Regions from separate parts of the Homo sapiens genome. Here regions 2 and 3 are each reported to be linked to region 1. Evidence: microRNA targets listed by miRTarBase, many of them from high-throughput screens and not tested one by one. Region 1 holds a microRNA gene; each other region holds the end of a gene's coding sequence. Distances are between the middles of the regions.

What was found. Region 1 holds the annotated microRNA hsa-miR-558 (UGAGCUGCUGUACCAAAAU, at 4,335-4,353, opposite strand). A microRNA usually pairs through its seed, bases 2 to 8, with sites in the 3' UTR of a target mRNA and lowers its output. Matches are read on the target gene's strand: a 7mer-m8 pairs with bases 2 to 8, a 7mer-A1 pairs with bases 2 to 7 and ends in A, and an 8mer does both.
Region 2: miRTarBase lists DUSP19 as a target of hsa-miR-558. Seed matches in the 3' UTR shown: 7mer-A1 at 5,158-5,164.
Region 3: the mRNA of SLC35A5 is a reported target of hsa-miR-558. Seed matches in the 3' UTR shown: 7mer-m8 at 1,242-1,248.

The regions. Positions count from the first base shown.
Region 1 is chr2:32,529,566-32,536,565 of GRCh38, reverse strand. MIR558 (microRNA 558) reads right to left here and starts at 4,413; the gene lies at 4,320-4,413. BIRC6 (baculoviral IAP repeat containing 6) reads right to left here. Exons shown (of 74, transcript NM_016252.4): 60 at 6,742-6,915; 61 at 5,015-5,211.
Region 2 is chr2:183,094,333-183,101,468 of GRCh38, reverse strand. It overlaps DUSP19 (dual specificity phosphatase 19), which reads right to left. Exons shown (of 4, transcript NM_080876.4): 4 at 1,461-6,038. The coding sequence ends at 5,811. Among named protein-coding and RNA genes, the nearest start is that of DUSP19, 19 kb to the right of the region's middle.
Region 3 is chr3:112,581,514-112,588,649 of GRCh38, forward strand. SLC35A5 (solute carrier family 35 member A5) reads left to right here. Exons shown (of 7, transcript NM_017945.5): 7 at 1,158-4,066. The coding sequence ends at 1,223. Among named protein-coding and RNA genes, the nearest start is that of SLC35A5, 23 kb to the left of the region's middle.

The sequences.
Region 1 (7,000 bases):
GATTCCCTATTTAATAAATGGTGCTGGGAAACTGGCTAGCCATATGTAGAAAGCTGAAACTGGATGCCTTCTTTACACCTTATACAAAAATTAATTCAAGATGCATCAAAGACTTAAATGTTAGACCTAAAACCATAAAAACCCTAGAAGAAAACCTAGGCAATACCATTCAGGACATAGGCATGGGCAAGGACGTCATGTCTAAAACACCAAAAGCAATGGCAACAAAAGCCAAAATTGACAAATGGGATCTAATTAAGCTAAAGAGCTTCTGCACAGCAAAACAAACTACCATCAGAGTGAACAGGCAACATACAGAATAGGACAAAATTTTTGCAATCTACTCATCTGACAAAGGGCTAATATCCAGACTCTACAATGAACTCAAACAAATTTACAAGAAAAAAACAAACAACCCCATCAAAAAGTGGGCGAAGGATATGAACAAATGCTTCTCAAAAGAAGACATTTATGCAGCCAAAAGACACATGAAAAAATGCTCATCATCACTGGCCATCAGAGAAATGCAAATCAAAACCACAATGAGATACCATCTCACACCACTTAGAATGCCGAACATTAAAAAGTCAGGAAACAACAGGTGCTGGAGAGGATGTGGAGAAATAGGAACACTTTTACACCGTTGGTGGGACTGTAAACTAGTTCAACCATTGTGGAAGTCAGTGTAGCAATTCCTCAGGGATCTAGAACTAGAAATACCATTCGACCCAGCCATCCCATTACTGGGTATATACCCAAAGGATTATAAATCATGCTGCTATAAAGACACATGCACACGTATGTTTATTGCAGCACTATTCACAATAGCAAAGACTTGGAACCAAGCCAAATGTCCAACAGTGATAGACTGGATTAAGAAAATGTGGGACATATACACCATGGAATACTATGCAGCCATAAAAAATGATGAGTTCATGTCCTTTGTAGGGACATGGATGAAGCTGGAAACCATCTTTCTCAGCAAACTATCGCAAGGACGAAAAAACCAAACACTGCATGTTCTCACTCATAGGTGGGAATTGAACAATGAGAACACATGGACACAGGGAAGGGGAACATCACACACCGGGGCCTGTTGTGGGGTGGGAGGAGGGGAGACGGATAGCATTAGGAGACATACCTAATGTTAAATGATGAGTTAATGGGTGCAGCATACCAACATTGCACATGTATACATGTGTAACAAACCTGCACGTTGTGCACATGTACCCTAAAAGTATAATTTAAAAAATAAAATAAAATAAAGTTGTAATTCCCTGGCTCATATGGTTTCTGTTGAAAGGCCAGTTGTTAGTGTTATTGCTGCTGTTTTGAAAATATAGGTCATTTTCTTTATAGCTGGTTTTTATATTCTCTCATTGTCTTAGCTTTTTTTTTTTTTTTTTTTTTTTTTTGCTTTTTTGGGGGTATGAGGTCTTGTTATGTTGCCCAGGTGGTCTGGAACCCGTGGGCTCAAGTAATCCTCCCGCTTCAGTCTCCTGAGTAGCTGGGATTTCAGAGATGCACTGCAGTGGCCAGCTGTCTTTGTTTTTAACCACTTTTACCATGACAGTTCCAGGCATGCATATCCTGCATGAGTTAACAGTTTCTTACATGTTGAATTGAGATTTAAGTTTTACATCTATTTGGGAAATTTTTCTTCTTCTCAATACTGTTTCTGTCCATGTTTCAACTCACTCTTCTTCTCGGACTATAAATTCATGTAAGTTAGAATTTTTCACTTCAGTCCATACAGCTCTTATGTTCTTCTCATTCCTTACACTTTCTATGCTTCCATTTGAACCATTTTTTTTTTTTTTTTTTTTTTTTTTTTTGAGACAGAGTCTTGCTCTGTCACCCAGGCTGGAGTGCAGTGGTGCGATCTTGGTTAACTGCAGCCTCTGCCTCCTGGGTTCAAGCAATTCTCCTTCCTCAGCCTCCCGAGTAGCTGGGATTACAAGCGTCCACCACCACGCCCAGCTAATTTTTGTACTTTTAGTAGAGATGGGGTTTCACCATGTTGGCCAGGCTGATCTCAAACTCCTGACCTCAGGTGATCCGCCTGCCTCGGCCTCCCAAAGTGCTGGGATTACAGGCATTAGCTGCCGCGCCAAGCCGAATGATTTCTTTTGATACATCTTCCAGTTCACTACTGTTGCAATCTGCAGTGTCTCTTTTTTTTTTTTTTTTTGAGATGGAATTTCACTCTTGTCACCCAAGCTTGAGTGCAATGAAGCCATCTCGGCTCACTGCAACCTCCACCTCCCGGGTTCAAGCAATTCTCTTGCCTCAGCCTCCTGAACGGCTGGGATAACAGGCACCCACTACCACACCGGGCTAATTTTTGTATTTTTAGTAGAGACGGGGTTTCACCATGTTGGCCAGGCTGATCTCGAACTGCTGACCTCAGGTGACCCTCCTGCCTTGGCCTCCCAAAGTGCTGGGATTACAAGTGTGATTACAGGATTACAGGCTAGGATTACACCATGCCCAGACAGTGTCTCTTATTAAACACACCTAACAGTATCCTTAATTTGATATATTAGAAATTCTCAACCCATCCCATATAGCTAGTAGTATCCTGACACCAAAACCAGACAAAGGCATTACAACTACAGACCAAACTCTGTATTAGTTTTCTACTGCTGCTATAACACATTGCCACAAACTCAGTGGCTCAGAACAGCACAATTTATTATTTTAAAATTCCAGAGGTCAGAAATCCAAAACAGGTCTTATGGGACTAAAATCAAAGGATGCATTGCTTCTGGAGGCTCTTAGGAAATAACAGTTCCTCACCTTTTCCAGCTTCCAGAGGCTACTTACGTTCCATGGCTCTTGGATGCTTCCATCATCACATCATATCCTCTATTCCTCGCTTATGCTTAGACGGCTGAGGAGATCCATGAGTTACATGCCTAATCTCTTCAAAGAGCCCTCTATGTGACTGAATACTCTGACTTTTGATGTTTCTAAGGCACTAGCAAAAGGTTGTCCAGCCTCACTCTTGGCTTATACTTTGGAGCATGCTTTTCTGATAGCAAATATCTAAATTTTAGCACCTTCTGTGATCTGGATAGGTAATTTCACAAATTGACAAGCACTGATTGCTTGTTTTTCAACAGTTCTTCTCTCAATTTATATCTTTCCTCGCACATTTCACTATAAGCAGCAAGAAAAAGACAGGTTGTACTTTCACCACTTTGTGTGGAAATCTCAGCTAAACATCCAAGTTCATTACATGTTCATTACATGTAAGTTCATTACATCCAAGTTCATTACAGCAGAAGTGCTGCTTTCTATATTTAGGACACAAATGAGTTAATAGTTCTGCTTCTATATGACAAAGATCCCTTTTCCTTCAGGTTCCGGTAACATGTTCCTCATTTCCTTCTAAACCACCTTGTCAGCACTTTAAACACCTGTATGTCTACCAAGTCTGCTTATGACAATTCAGATATTCTCTAAGACACTGTAGGTTTTCTCCCCTATGATCCTTACTTCCTTCTGGGCCCTCACTGGCAGAAGCTTTATCATCCACATTTTATCTAACAATCTATTCAAGGTAATCTAGATTTTTTTTTTAAATCATGCTACTCAAAATTATTCCATACTCTGCCAAGTACCCAATTCTAAAGTCACTTTCACATTCTTAGGTATGTATTACCAGGACCCCATTTCCAGTTACTAATCAATATAGTGAACCACACTGAATACTAAATTAGAAAAAATCATTTATGTTGAGCAATAATAATGCTGAAAATGTTGGGGTCTTTTCTGCTTCAAACTTTTGAGTAATTATGTCATTGTCTAGTAAGAAAATTTTGCTCATTCTGTGTCAATCACCTTATAACATAGTTATATCATCTTATATTTTTGAATACTAGGGAAGCAATAACATGAATAAGTATTATTGTGTGTTGCATTTTGTCCTCCCAAGATATGTTCAAGTCCTAACCCCTAGCACCTATGAAGATGACCTTATTTGGAAATGGGGCCTTTGCAGATGTAATCAAGTTAAGATGAGGAGATAATGGTTTGCAGGACCCTACATTAAATGACTGGTGTCCTTATAAGGAGAAAGAGATACAAGGACACACAGGAAAGATGGCCATATGACGACGTAGGCAGAAATTAAAGTGATTCAGCTACAAACCAATGAACAGCAAGAACTACTGGCAACCAATAGAAGCCAGGAAGAAGCAAGGAAGGAGTCTTCCCTACAGCCTGAATTCAGAGGGAGCATGGCCCTGCTGATATCTTGATTTCAGACTTACAGCCTCCTCAACTATTGAGAATAAATTTCAGTTGTTTTAAGCCAGCCCGTTTGTGGTATTTTGGTACAGCAGCTCAGGAAACTATAATAGAGTCTAGAGCTACTATACCAAAATAACCACACACACACACACACACACACACACACACACACACGACATGAAATCAAAGAGAATAATTCCCCTACTTCATTCAACAAACACAAAGTTTTGTTTTTACAACTCTCCATGCACCATACTTCCTACTGATTGATACAAGAGCATGGAAAGCACAGACATTGACAGCTTCGTAAATGAACACGGGAATAGGTCATGTTTTTAAACCACCAAAAATGGAAATGGCACCTGAAACAGGAATAAAAGGTAAACAAAAAGACATATATTGGTGGCAGTATACACTGCTATTTTACTTCTCCTATTTCCAATAATATCTCTAATAAATATCACACTTAAAGCAGCATAGAAAAGAGAATGCTAGTGTTACAACCATGAAATCAAGATAAATGCAACAGTGTAGTAAGTCTGGCAAGTGTGCTTGATCTTCAACATTTCTTCCATACCTACTGAAGGTCATGAAGCTCTGTACAGACTGACCATTGAAAGAGTTATATAATGTTCAAAAAATATAAAGCAAAGGGTATTTCTACAAAGTTAATCCAAGTACATTAAAAAACAAACATTAAAAAGAATGAAGGGCTTAGCTATGGAATGATATACTCGATTAGGAAATCTTATCTTACCTGTTGAATTACTTCTGGATATAGCATGGGTAGTCTTTCAGCAATAAGAGCCAGTCCACCCATTCCTGCAAAAACTTGTAATGGTGACTGAATTGGACAGGTTTCAAGCAAAGATTCATCCAGTATCCCATCCATGCATTCATCACCTGGAGTGAGAGCCTCATCTTCTGGACAGCTAGCAAGTAAGTCTCCATGATCTAGACAATAAATTACAAATAACTGAATAGGTAAGAAAGGGTATATTTTTATAATATTCTTTCATTTACAAAAGCAGGTATTACTGCTTTCTTGCTACTCAAAAAAGAGCACAAAACATCATTTATTTAGATATAGCTGTATTATGGCTAGACGGTACAATGACCTTTAAATGACTTCTGATACTGCCTTCTTTAGTCTTGTTATTGGAAGAATGGTTCATGGACTAGTAGTATTGGCATCACCTGCAAGCTAGTTTGAAATGAAGAATCTCCATTTTAACAGTATGATGCTGGTCATTTGTAAGCATACTGAAGTTTGAGAAGCACTGTCCTTTAGGGCATACTTTAACGTATATCCTATGTTAAAATAAATAAGTTCTCAAAGTTCTCATAGCAAATAATATGCTCTAAAGTATCCTATTAAGAAAAATTAATGACAAAGACTTCCCTTACTTAAAACAAAAAATTATACCATATTAGTTTAACTCTGAATTACTCACCAAAGAAAACCAAAAGGTCACGTAACCAGACCCTTTAAACATTAAAACAAAAGAGAGAAATAATCGTGCTGAAAAACTGGGCAAAGACAATGTACCAAAATTTGCTGAAGAATACAAAAGACCAATAACTAAAGACTGAATTTTAGTCATGAGAAAGATGGAAAGTTTAAGTAAGTTCATATCATACTCACACTATGAAAACTACTTATATAGCATTTATAGGAGTAAAAATTGGAAACAACCACAATGTTTCGATGATTGGGGAACAAATAAATTTTCTTACATTTTTATGAAAAAATAGCCAATTCAAAAATGGATATTCAAAAATATTTAATGGAATATAAGGGCCGGGTGCGGTGGCTCATGCCTATATCCCAGCACTTTGTGAGGCCGAAGCGGGCAGATAAGTTGAGGTCAGGAGTTACAGAGTAGCTTGGCCAACATGGTGAAACCTTCTCTCTACAAAAAATACAAAAATTAGCCAGGCATGGTGGTGGGTGCCAGTAATCCCAGCTTCTCGGGAGGCTGAGGCAGGAAAATCACTTGAACTCGGGAGGCGGAGGTTGCAGTGAACTAAGATCGTGCCTCTGCACTCCGACCTGGGAGACAGAAAAAGACTCTGTCTCAAAAAAAATTAATGGAATATATAAGTAAAAAACAAAAATATGTGATCCCAATTATATGAGAAAACATGTTTATATGCAAGAAATGCCACTCAATATAAATTATAACAAAGTTGTAAGTTGAGTTTCTCACTTTTATTATAAAATGACAATTCACATAGCTCTCACAGAAATATCAGAAATTAAAGTACATGCGCTCATAAAACAAATGATGTTATAAGAAATAATGCAACTTAGTTTCCAAATGAAATAATGGCCATTTTTTATATTTACAAAAATTCAGTCATAAAAAAATTATATCTTATGTTGATATAATAAAAACACAAGTCAATTAAGTCATTAGCTATAGAAATCTCTGCCTCTTTGTATGACAGTCTGTAATTTTTAAAGTAGTATTATGCACATACCTTTTTCAGGGTGTAGTCTTTTATAAGAATCTGTTTTTGATAGACTGGGGTCTGTTATAACTCTTGATCCCAATTTAACAGTCAGATCTATTGAGCGGTAACCCTGAGGAAGTTTTCGGTCATATAGGAGAGTTAAAAGCTGGGCAAGTGTCATTTCAGCTGGCAATGGCTGGCCTAAAATGATATAACTAAGTTAAATCTGGAAACCGAGAAAGAAACATTTACTTGGTTTAATTATTATCTGCTTTTACTAAATTAC
Region 2 (7,136 bases), 150 Mb from region 1:
CATGGATGAAGCTAGAAACCATCATTCTCAGCAAACTAACACAGAGACAGAAAACCAAACACCAAATGTTCTCACTCATAAGTAGGAGCTGAACACATGGACACAGGGAGGGGATTATCACACACTGGAGCCTGTCGAGGGGTGGGGGGTAAGGGGAGGGATAGCATTAGGAGAAATACCTAACGCATGCGGGGCTTAAAACCTAGATGACAGGTTGAAGGGTGCAGCAAACCACCATGGCACATGTGTACCTATGTAACAAACCCCCAAGTTCTGCACATGTATCCCAGAACTAAAAGTATAATAATAATCAAAAGGACACATTAAAAAAGAAAACTATTGGCCTACATCCCTGATGAACATTGATAAATACCCAAAAGAAAGGAAATTCATATATCAAAGAGATATCTGCACTCCCATGTTTATTGCGGCACTATTCACAATAGCCAAGATTTAGAAGCAACCTAAGTGTCCATCAACAGATGAATGGATAAATAACATGTAGTACATATATATAATGGAGTACTATTCAACCATAAAAAAGAATAAGATCCCGTCCTTTGGAAAAACATGGATAGAACTGGAGGACATTATGTTAAGTCAAATAAGACTGGCACAGATAGACAAACTTCAAATGTTCTCACTCCTTTGTGGGAGCCAAAAATTAAAACAGTTCAACACATGGAGATAGACAGTAGAATGATGGTTACCAGAAGCTGGAAAGAACAGTGGGGGCATGAGGGGAAGAAGTGTGATGGCTAATGGGTATTAAAATATAGCTAGATAGAATAAGATCTAGTATTTGATAGCACAACAGGGTGACTACAGTCAACAATAATTTATTGTACATTTTAAAATAACTATTACAAAGATATAACAGCCTGTTTGCATGAGCGTGGGAGGTGGGTGCCACACTATGTACAAATAATCTCAATGCAGTCATAGTTAGAATGTAGGGTAATTTAATCTGACAGTAACTCAGCATCTTCTCTTACCTTAAATAAGGTATTCTATTGAATTTTCATTGACAATCTGTCCACAGTGATGCCAATTATATGCTCTTACTTTAGCTTTTCTCTTTTGTGTTTTGAGACAGAGTCTCGCTCTGTCACCCAGGCTGGAGTGCAGTGGCGCAATCTCAGTTCACTGCAACCTCTGCCTCCCAGGTTCAAGCGATTCTCCTGCCTCAGCCTCCCAAGCAGCTGGGACTACAGGCGTGTGCCACCACGCCCAGCTAATTTTTTTTGTATTTTTAGTAGAGACAGGGTTTCACCGTATTGGCCAGGCTGCTCTTGAAGTCCTGACCTCGTGATCCTCTTGCCTCGGCCTCCCAAAATGCTGAGATTACAGGCCACCGCACCCAGCCGGCTTTTCATTTCTTGAAGAGACGGGAACAACAAATCTTCATAGATCTAAACTAACTTACATTTTAAAATATAAAATTGTGTGTCTTCCCAACATTTTTTTTTTTTTTTTGAGTCAGAGTCTCACTCTGTCAACTAGAAGTGCAGTGGTGCTATCTCGGCTCACTGCCACCTCCACCTCCCAGGGTCAAGCAATTCTCCTACCTCAGCCTCCTAAGAAGCTGGGATTACAGGCACCCACCACCATGCCCGGGTAATTTTTGTATTTTTAGTGATGGGGTTTTGCCATGTTGGCCAGGCTGGTCTTGAACTCCTGGCCTCAAGTGATCCATCTCCTTGGCCTCCCAAAATGTTGGGATTACAGGCATGAGCCACTGCGCCTGGCCACCAACAGATTTTTTAATTCAGAATTTGACAGCAAATAAGTGTTACATCTTTTAAAACAAATAGCTTCAAAGAAATATATTAATGGGAAAATATTAAACATATCATTTTTATTAAAGTATATCAACACCTAGAAACAATAAAGGGTACATGATGAATATGTATAAAAACAAGTAACTCAAAGCTTTACTTGAAATAGAAAAGTCTAACTATAAGTTATTTTTTGTGTGCATCAATTGAAACAAACCATAAGTTTGTTGATTATAATGTCATTTTATGCATTGCAAGAATATACAACTTCAAAGTCTTCTGGTTTAAATTCCTAAATAACTACAGGGTAACTAAATATGTTCAGGATCCTTCAGGCAGAAAAATCAACTATTTAGAGTCACCTGGAACAAATAAATAAGTAATCATGCCACATTTCTGTTGTTTTTAAATTTATCATGGTTTTGCTTATAAAGGTATTGACTCATTAGGTTAACTCTGTAAGATTATAAGATGATATTCTGATTTATACTTGCTACATTTATGACTACTTGGAGAAACAACACTTGAAGGGGACCTTCTATATACATTTGAACAATCTGAGTTACAAATAATCATGCTGACAAATTCAGGTTTCCCCACTACCACTGAAATTATCAGAGTCTAAGCTGAAAAAAAAAAATCCAAGTATTGTATTCATACATTTTAATCAAGGTTCAATAGGGAAGAAGGGAAGAAAAAGTAAAATTGCAAACAAAATGTTAAATACTGTACTCCACTTCCTCTGAAATATTTGTCTTTTGAATTAGTATACTGGTCTAAATTTTGCCTCCAAAAATCTAAGAAGAATATTGTTTGGGTTTTTCAAAAATCTACATACTTCTTGAGTGTTCTATTCAAATTTTATGTAATCAGAAACCTATTTTAAGGCATAAAATTAGAAAAAAATTTAAAAATTATTAACTTCAATTAACCTCAAATAAATAGAATTGTATTGTATGCTCCACTGCCTTTGTTCTACTCAGCTTTTTCAGTTTGCGGTTTAAAGCCTCCATATTTCTTTTCAATGTTTAAAAAGACATGCTGTTTTCATTTTCCCTTTCCTTTAAAAAATGGCAGAATAATCTATTGAAAAACAAAGAGGCAAAAACTCCTTGAACTATTTTTCCTCTCCTTTAAAACAGACCTATATTTGGTGTATGTATCTTTTAAGTTTGCAGTATGTGAGAAAGAGGACCGTAATCATAAAGTTCTTTTTTTAAAATAACTAGGAATGACAGAGTGATTTATCCCCATGGGAAGTGCAATAAACATATTGTATAGTATATATGACCTTATGCTTTACTTGGTGCCCCTAAAAGACTGAATTATATTCATTGATCTATTTTAATACAGCAAACTACAATTTAACGTTAAAACAAATTTGATGCTCAAAGCACTTCTGTAGAAGATACAAAAGATAAATGTTTGAATCTTACCCAGATCACTATAGGCAACAACTAAGCATATAAACTACAGACATAAATAATACACAATCCAGGCCAGGTGTAGTGGCTAACACCGTAATCCCAGCACTTTGGGAGACCAAGGCGTGTGGATCACTTGCGGTCAGGAGTTCGAGACCAGCCTGACCAACATGGTTGAACCCTGTCTCTACCAAAAAAAAATACAAAATTTGCTGGGCATGGTGGCACATGCCTATAATCCCAGCTACTTGGGAGGCTGATACAGGAGAATCGCTTGAAGCTGGGAGGCAGAGGTTGCAGTGAGCCAAGATCACGCCACTGCACTCCAGCCTGGGCAATAAGAGCAAAACTCTGTCTCAAATAATAATAATATCATTAAGAGCAAAACTCCATCTCAAAAATAATAATAATACATGAGCCATTATGAACAAATTCTATCAAGGCTTCATGTGACATTTAATGGCTGAAAACTAAACAGGATTTAGCAAAATAAAATGTATTTAAATACATCCTTTCTTATGAAAGGAGAAGGCTTATCCAGTGATACTGACCATAGAGAGAACCTATACATCAGTCTCATATTTAAGAGGGTTCTGCCTGCCTTGGTTGGCTTCAAAGAGCTCACTGTACGTTGATTATATTTAGACTGCTTCTTAGCAGAAGCAAAGAGTTTATAACAGTTCATAACATCACAAGTGATGGCATCTTGTCACGGTGTAAGCAATCTCAAAACATAACTTGCATTTATCACTTCTACTTTTTGCTCATGACAGCATATGAAAGCCTGCCTTCTCAAATGCACAGATGTGTTCAATATGCACTTTCCATCTATGCTTGCTCTTTATAATGTATATTTAAGAAGAGCTCAAGACTTTTAAAAATAAAACCTACATGGCAATGATATCTTCTAAGTCATGAAAAACTATGTGGAAACTATCAGGCCAGGCGTGGTGGCTGATGCCTGTAATCCTAGCACTTGGGAGGCTAAGGCGGGAGGATCACTTAAGCCTAGGAGTTTGAGATCAGCCTGGGCAACATGGCAAGACTCCTGTCTCTACAAAAATAAAAATAAAATTAGCCAGATGTGGTGGCGCACAGCTGTAGTCTCAGCTACTCAGGAGACTGAGGTGGGAGGACTGCTTGAGCCCAGGAGGTAGAGGCTGCAGTGCGTTGTGTTCATGCCACTCCACTCTAGCCTAGGTGACAGAGCAAGACCCTGTCTCGAAAAAAAAAAAAAAGAAAAGAAAAAAGAAACTGTCTTAATTAATTAATTTTAAGTATACCATATTCTGAAGAAAAAATCAAAATCTTTAAGCAAATTTATAATGTACAGAGCTCAGTTCTTCAAATACGGAGACATTAAAGAAAAAAGAACCTATTCAAAGGCCAAAGATAAAACTGTAAATGATTGTGGGTCTCCTAAAAGTATATTTAAAGTTTCTTACAAAACCATAACCCTTCTCCCCTAAAAAATATGTTCTCTGGTAGAATACTGAAGTAGAAAACAGACCACTAAACAATGATCTTGCAGTATCAAACATTTTCTCAAAAAATTATGACATAGGATCAAAAAAACAGAATGCTAGGCACCCAAGATAAAAAGCACAAAATGTAAGAGAATAGATCACCTGTTCAAAGAACCAAAGCTCACAATAACGTATGACAGAACACCTATACATTAAAAAAAAAAAGAAAGAAATGCCGATAACAGAATTGAAAAAAACAAAATGAGGTCGGATGCAGTGGCTCACGCCTGTAATCCCAGTATTTAGAGAGGCCAAGGTGGGTGGATCACCTGAGGTCAGGAGTTCGAGACTGCCTGGCCTATGTGGTGAGACTCCATCTCTACTAAAAACACAAAAATTAGCTGGGCATGGTGGCAGGCACCTATAATCCCAGCTATATGGGAGGCTGGGGCAGGAGAATCGCTTGAACCCGGGAGGCAGAGGTTGCAGTGAGCTGAGATTGCGCCATTGCACTCCAGCCTGGGTGACAAGAGCCAAACTCCATCTAAAAAAAGAAAAAAAAAGAAGAAGACAAAATGAAAAGTGTATATTTTTCATAAGAGAACATAAGAATTTTGTGAATATTGTAGCCACTGTGTAAATATTGTATAAACCTTCAGATACTGGTTATCTCTTTTGGGAGATTTAAGGTATTCATTTTTAATCTTAAAAAGATTCTTTAAAAAGAAATATACTTCCCTTTGAAATAGTAAGTTAAGTAGCATTTCAAGTTTTTCTTTCATAAAAACAGTTGCTGGAACAGAAAAATAGGCTTCATTAAATGATTCTCTCCATGCTCTAAATACACATTTTAAATTTAAACCTTTTTCTTCTACAGAAAGCAATGATTACTAACACTTTGTTATTTTCCCTTAGCAATTTAAAAAAGCATTTAATCACACATTATAATAACAAAGAGAAAGTAATGACATTTGAAATTTACTTATACAGTAGGTCAGGACAATCAAATTGACCTCCATTTATGCATAAAAAAGGCAAGAGAAAAAAGGGAGTTTTGCTAGTCTACTCTCCAAAAAAGGGAAAAGATGGCTATAGAAGTCAATTCAGAAACTACAGTTGTCCATTGTCTGCTACAATGCAACTCATGAACTGTTCTCCTGTATTCTGTCACACTTATTGCTTTCTTTGCCCTCTTGATATGTACGAAGCTGCTCCATGAAGCCAGAATTTGGACATATGGAAGGTCTTGCATTTTTCACCAAAGAAAAAGCACTGGTAAATGAGGTTTGTTCAGAATTCATCAGGAAACCTATTACAATTGCAGCAGCCCTGGAAACGCCTGCATTACAATGAACAAGAACCACTCCATCCTACAAAAAAAAAAACAAACAAAAATCTTCATTATTCATTTGAGAAAGGTTATTATATCAATTGCACATTCTTATACTACTTGAAAGTATAAAGTAAATATTCAGTTTTATTGATTTATTTGATTCAATTTATTTGATTATTGAAATAAAATTCATTACCAGCAACAAATGGAAACTCAATCAATCAATCAATCAACCTGTACCTCCCTTACCTACTAACCCATGATTGAAATGCTTTAATGATGTTTGGAATTCTGAAACAGTATCTTTCATTAAACTAAAGTAATCCAGTAAAGAACACATTAAAACCTAACAACTTAGTAGCCAAATGTATCAGTAAAGTACACATAAAAACCTAATAACTTAGTAGTCAAATGTATCAGTAAAGTACACATGAAAACCTAACAACTTTGTAGCCAAATGTATCAGTAAAGTACACATAAAACCTAACAACTTAGTAGATAAGTGTATATAAATAAGAAAAAAACCACAGGAAATATATGTGGAAACATAAAATAAAATCATAACTATAAGCTAAACAGAAAGCCAGAAATACTCCAGAGTATACTTAGTGTTCTCATAAATAAGCTAGTGTCAATGGCTTGCAAATCTGTTTAAATAATCAGCAAGGAAAAAATTTTCTACCCTTGCACATATTTTATCCTGGCAGAAAGTTACTTAAAAATATTTAAACTTACGATGTAGTAAAATGTGACACAAATAGCTCATAACAATGTGAAGTGGAAAAGGTAATCACATACCAGCATGAGGTCAATAAATGAAAAACATTTCAGGTAACTTGCAAATGATACTTTCCAAGTGAAAAGAGACACAGTGCAAGACCAATGCTGATGGGGGCAATATTGTATTAATAATGAATGTGATAGATCTGATGGGACAGCATTGATACAGCTTGGCCTATCTGAAGCTTTTAAAAAGTTAATGATCTAAATGAAATGTGGTGAACTGTGAGCACACCCTCCAGAATTAGACATTTTAGTTACTTCATTTCTTGATTCTTTATTTGGTACAACACAAAAAAAGACGAGAGCAGGAGGGAAAAAATATACTACTGAAAACCCTCTACCCAAAGCACAT
Region 3 (7,136 bases), not on the chromosome of region 1:
GTGTAGAGAAAAAGTATAAGTCAATCTCAAGGACCTTATGTGTTACTTCATAGAATACTATAGAATTATACACCTGGAAGATACCTCACAGGTTGTCTTGTCCTGTCTGCATAGTTTTACAAGAAACAGGCAAAATGGTTTACAGATAATAAATGAAAGAACTGGTACACCTATGTCTGACTCCAAGTCCCTTTCTCTTTCTTTTCCACCATAGTTAGGGAAAATAAGCTCATTTGTGAGAGAAGTTGGCCTTTCGTATTAGTAAGTCCTGTTGAATAGAAAGCCTGGCTCCTCAGTCCTCCCTGTGGTTATTCATAAGCCAGTATGCCAGAAGGGCAGGGTTTGTTTATTTCACTAGAAAGGTAGTTTTCAAGAGGATCCTTGCAAGGCGAGTAGGAGGAAAATATTTTCTAGAAAAATGCTTATGCAATTATTCCGAATATCTCCCAGTTGCTTGCAATTGTTTTGGAAGGCTCTGTCAATCATTTTATTGGCAAGTTAATGATCTCTTTGAAGATTCAATTAAGGAGTTAAATATACGTTTAAATAAGTGAAATAGACATCTAGCTTTAGATTTACAATTTTCTTGAGCACACAAAATATGAAATATTTTATACAGTGAACATTTCACTCTTTGGGAAAAATAATCTATTGCTTAATAACATTCATAGCAGAGCTTCCCTGGGTGTAATGCCTCTGTCATGATTCAACAGATTCTAAAGATGAAAAAATTAGGATCTTGAGTTTCGGATACCCTGCTCTTAGCCAGAGTGTATATCCAGAAGTCTTGTATTCTTTTCCAACAGCCGATAATGCCATTTGCTCTAATTTTTAAGCAAAAGAAAATCTATATAGGTAACAAGGCCTATGAAGACCTATTTCTGTAACCTTTAATCATTTTTCTGCAAGACCAGCAGGTGGTGCTCCTCACTTTGCTCATGTTAGCTTTGAAATTTTGAGTACTGAGTACACTTCACTTTTTTATCCTCTCATACTTCTATAGTTAACTTTCCAAGAACATAAGTATTTATTTAATTTGACCAGATTATATCTATAGCTTAATGAGGTAAGACCAGTGATTTGTTAGTAAGGTTTTCCCTTTAAAAATGCTACATTTCCAGTTTTGTTCTAATTACTGCTTTCATGTTTCCTTTTAGGATGGAGAAGAACTAGAAAGACTTACCAAACCCAAGAGTGATGAGTCAGATGAAGATACTTTCTAACTGGTACCCACATAGTTTGCAGCTCTCTTGAACCTTATTTTCACATTTTCAGTGTTTGTAATATTTATCTTTTCACTTTGATAAACCAGAAATGTTTCTAAATCCTAATATTCTTTGCATATATCTAGCTACTCCCTAAATGGTTCCATCCAAGGCTTAGAGTACCCAAAGGCTAAGAAATTCTAAAGAACTGATACAGGAGTAACAATATGAAGAATTCATTAATATCTCAGTACTTGATAAATCAGAAAGTTATATGTGCAGATTATTTTCCTTGGCCTTCAAGCTTCCAAAAAACTTGTAATAATCATGTTAGCTATAGCTTGTATATACACATAGAGATCAATTTGCCAAATATTCACAATCATGTAGTTCTAGTTTACATGCCAAAGTCTTCCCTTTTTAACATTATAAAAGCTAGGTTGTCTCTTGAATTTTGAGGCCCTAGAGATAGTCATTTTGCAAGTAAAGAGCAACGGGACCCTTTCTAAAAACGTTGGTTGAAGGACCTAAATACCTGGCCATACCATAGATTTGGGATGATGTAGTCTGTGCTAAATATTTTGCTGAAGAAGCAGTTTCTCAGACACAACATCTCAGAATTTTAATTTTTAGAAATTCATGGGAAATTGGATTTTTGTAATAATCTTTTGATGTTTTAAACATTGGTTCCCTAGTCACCATAGTTACCACTTGTATTTTAAGTCATTTAAACAAGCCACGGTGGGGCTTTTTTCTCCTCAGTTTGAGGAGAAAAATCTTGATGTCATTACTCCTGAATTATTACATTTTGGAGAATAAGAGGGCATTTTATTTTATTAGTTACTAATTCAAGCTGTGACTATTGTATATCTTTCCAAGAGTTGAAATGCTGGCTTCAGAATCATACCAGATTGTCAGTGAAGCTGATGCCTAGGAACTTTTAAAGGGATCCTTTCAAAAGGATCACTTAGCAAACACATGTTGACTTTTAACTGATGTATGAATATTAATACTCTAAAAATAGAAAGACCAGTAATATATAAGTCACTTTACAGTGCTACTTCACACTTAAAAGTGCATGGTATTTTTCATGGTATTTTGCATGCAGCCAGTTAACTCTCGTAGATAGAGAAGTCAGGTGATAGATGATATTAAAAATTAGCAAACAAAAGTGACTTGCTCAGGGTCATGCAGCTGGGTGATGATAGAAGAGTGGGCTTTAACTGGCAGGCCTGTATGTTTACAGACTACCATACTGTAAATATGAGCTTTATGGTGTCATTCTCAGAAACTTACACATTTCTGCTCTCCTTTCTCCTAAGTTTCATGCAGATGAATATAAGGTAATATACTATTATATAATTCATTTGTGATATCCACAATAATATGACTGGCAAGAATTGGTGGAAATTTGTAATTAAAATAATTATTAAACCTATGTCTTGTGTTGCCACTCTGTCATTTAGGGTGGGATGTAGAGTACTTTTAATCTTAAAAAATAGAGTGAGACAAAAACCTACACAACTTTTAAAACTTTCTCTTTAAGTAGATCTTTACTTCTAACAATAACAAAGGCATTTTCATCAGTTATGTGAAATACGAAGATTATATCTATTATGGCGATTTATTTTAAAGGTAAGGGAAATGAGGTACAGCAGGACCTTTCTAGGAAATGTGGCATACAAAACATTTTTATCTCATAAAACATAAAAATTACAAAAATATTCTTACAAAGGTATCACATACAGAATACATTAAATAGCAGATTTCAGTAGTGCATGGAGATTGATTTTCTTATTTACGATTACTTTTTTTCCTCACCTTCCTCTTTGGAAAGCATTTTTTGCACAAAGTTAAGTTTACTTATGTTAACTTGCCACTTAATGAGAGAGGAAGAGAAAGAGTGAGAGCACAAGATCATGTGCTGGAACTAAAAATGTTCTATTCAACCCAGCAATCCCTCTACTGGGTACCTACCCAAAGGAAAATAAATCGTTTTATCAAAAAGACACTTGCAGTGGTATGTTTATCACAGCAGTATTCACAGTAACAAAATCATGGACTCAACCTAAGTGTCCATCAGTGGTGCCTGGAATAAGAAAATGTGGTACATATACACCATGGAATACTTTGCAGCCATAAAAAATAATGAAACCATGTGCTTTAAAGCCACATGGATGCAGCTGGAAGCCATTATCCTAACTGAAATAATTCAGAAACAGAAAATCAAATACCACATGTTCTCACTTATAAGTGGGAGCTAAACAGTGGGTACATGTGGACACAGGATTCCAAAGTGAGAAGGGTGGTGTATTAGTCCATTCTCATGCTGCTACAAAGAAATACCCGAGACTGGGTAATCTATAAAGAAAAGGGGTTTAAATGACTCGCAGTTCTGCATGGCTGGGGAGGAGGCCTCAGGAAACTCACAAGCATGGCTGAAGGCGAAACAGAAGCAAGCACCTTCTTCACAAGGCAGCAGGAGAGAGAGTGCCAACAGGGGAAATGGCAGATGCTTATAAAACCATCAGATCTCATGAGAACTTACTATCATGAGAACAGCATGGGGGAAACTGCCCCCATGATTCAATTACCCCCACCTGGTTCCTTCCTCAACACCTGGGGATTATGGGGATTACAATTCAAGATGAGATTTGGGCGGGGACAGAAAGCCTAATCATATCAGATGGGAAGGACATGAGGGTTGACAAAATATGTATTGGGTACAATGTTCACTGTTTGAGTGATGGGTCCACTAGAAGCCCAAACTTCACCATTATGCAATGTACCATATATACGCAATGTAACAAACCTGTACATGTACCCCTTCAATCTGAAATAAAAGTTGTTTTTTTTTTTAAGATGCGAAGTTCTGATATGTATCCACTGGAGGTCTTATGGGCACCACTGGTTTAAGAAGGTCAGAAGTCTGGAAACCATATCCTACATGCCCCTGAAATGAGGATAGTATAACCTGGAGAGGAGCAATTGTCATGTGAAAAAGGAAGTAGACATTTTTCTGCTCTGGAGAATCAAACTACAGTAAGATTTATATGGTAGTGATTATTATTTTATTATAATGAGGACTTTGCCAAAATAGGTTACTTTTCAACAGTTAAAAGAACCTTCCTGAAGAGTAATAGAGAATAGTAGTAAATTATCACTGAAGTTTTTAGGAAGAGATTGTGTCATCAGGATGTTTTAGAAGAGATTCCTTCATGAGTGTAGAAGTTGGACTGATTTCTAAAGTCCCTTTCTATTTTTAGATTCTCTTCTGCACAGTTATGACCTACACATAATGCACTGAATCTGTTCCCTTGATAGTTTCTGCATAGGCTTTGGTTGTGCCACAAGTGTGGCCTGCAGTGAATGACCTGGTCTAACTCTGTCATTGGTCCTAGGACTGAACTGTCCAGGAATATGCCTAATCCTGAGGGAAAGCATCAATATGGCTGTTGGTTATAGAGAGAAAGATGGCTTAGACTCAAGATCTCAAATCCTTGTCCAGCTGCATCTTGCTGCCGTGGGTTTTCAAGATCCACATACAGAGGGGATAACTTGACAAATTACTCTATAACTCTAAGGCTTTTTTTGCTTCTGAAGTCCCATGTGGAAGCCTTGTCACTTGTAAGCTGGACTAGACTGGGTAGATCTGCAGAGAATCTTTTTGCTTTTCTTTATAGACCCAATAGGCTCGATTAAATAGGCCATATCCTCCTTGGCTCCTTTTTCCTTTACCTATATTCTGATTTTTCCCATGAACATCTACCTTTCCTGTGGGGAGAAGAGGCAGAGGAAGTCAAGCTCAATGAAGTGTGATATTTTTTTCTCTAAAACCTAGAGCAGAGTTTCTTAAACTTCCTTTTAACGGAAAAACAAATGTCATAAATGTCAGCATGGACTTTTTTCTACTTTACTGTTATTTAAATACGTACAAACATAATATGAAGTATAAACTGCTTATGCTTTTTATCTGAAAACCGAAACATTTACAAATTAAAATACAAAGCTTTACAACCAATAAATTTCTATTTCAAATATGAATGTAATGAGAAAGTGACATTTTGCTCAAATAGAATCATAACAGACCCCCAACAGTCCTGCAGAACTTCTGCCCTCACTTGCTGTTTTAATTCCTTCAAGTACCACCCTATGGCTGTCAAGATAACAGACTTGTTGACTTTGCAAATCATGCATTTTGTCCTGCTGTGGATTTATCAACTCATGTTCCTAACAATCCCATATGGATGCTACTAACTCCCATTGGCCTTGGTGCCCTGGAAAGATTTTTAAAATATCAGCTTTATGTGTTCCCTGAAGTTCTGAAAGAACTCACTAGTAAAATTGCCTAGGCTTGGCACTTTTTTGAGATACTTTATTTTTCCCTCTCACAACATTCTCTCTCTCTCTTCCTTTTGCTCTTCTTGGTTCACTCTTGATCATTTGTTTTGCTAAAAAAAATCAGCCATTCATACAGATTTTTGAATTTATTTGCATAGGAGTTTATGATTTATTCTCATAATCCTTTGAATTTCCCATTGGTGTAGTTCTGTTTTATTTCTCATTCTTAATTTTTTGTCTGAAAGTTTTTTCTATTATTTTGTAAAAATATAGGTCCTAACTAGCTATTTCTAATTATTTTTTTCCATTTTTATTGTGGTAAAATGCACAGCATAAAATTTCGTGTCTTAACCATGGTAAGTGTACAGTTCAGTAGTTATTAAGCACATTTTTATATTTATATTATGCAACCATCACCACTGTCTACCTCCAGAACCCTTTTCATGTTGCAAAACTGAAACTCTATACCCATTAAACAGTAACTCCCCATTCCTCCCTGCCCTCAGTCTATGGCAGCCAACATCCCACTTCCTGTCTTTATGTTTTTGACTATTCTAAATACCTCATTTATAAGTGGAATCATACAGTATTTGTCCTTTTGTGACTGACTTCTTTTACATAGCATGATGTCCTCAAGGTTCATCAGTGTTGTAGTGTGTCAGAATCTCCTTGCTTTTTAAGACAGAATAATATGTCATTTTATGTATATGCTACATTTCTTTATCCATTCATCCATCAATGGACACCTGGGTTGCTTACAGCAATTTAGCTCTTGTGAATAATGATGCTATGAACATAAGTGTACAAATAATCTCTTAGAGATCTTGCTTTCAATTCTTTTGAGTATATATACATGAAAAGTGGGGAAAGGACTTGAATAGGCAGTTCTCCAAAGAAGATATACAAATGACCAACGAGCACATGAAAAGATGATCAACATCACTAATTATTAGGGAAAGACAGATCAAATCTACCATGAGATATCACATCACACCCATTAAAATGGCCACTAAAACATACACACACACAACAGAAAACAACAAGTGTTAGTATGTGGTGAACTTGGAACCCTTGTATACTGTTGGTGGGAATGTTGGTGGGTATAGCTGATGTGTGTATATATATATATATACACACACATACACACACACACACACACACACACACACACACCTGGATGTGGAATTACTGTATTATATGGTAATTATTTATAAATTAAAGGGTACATTTTTAATTTTTTGAGGATCTGACATACTGTTTTCCTTAGAAGCTCTATCATTTTACATTCCCTCCAACAGTATACAAGGGTTCCAAGTTCCTCATATACTCACCAACACTTGTTGTTTTCTGTTTTTGTTTTTGTTTATTTAATGGCCATGGTAATGGGTGTGATGATGTAGACTTGATTTCCCTTGCGCTAATAATTAGTGATGTTGAGCATCTTTTTATGTGCTTGTTGGTCATTTGTATATCTTCTTTGGAGAAATGCCTATTTAAGTCCTTTGTCCACTTTTGAATCTGGTTGTTTGTTTTGTTGCCATTGTTGAGTTTTAGGAGTTCTCTATATATCTTGATATTAATCCCCTATCA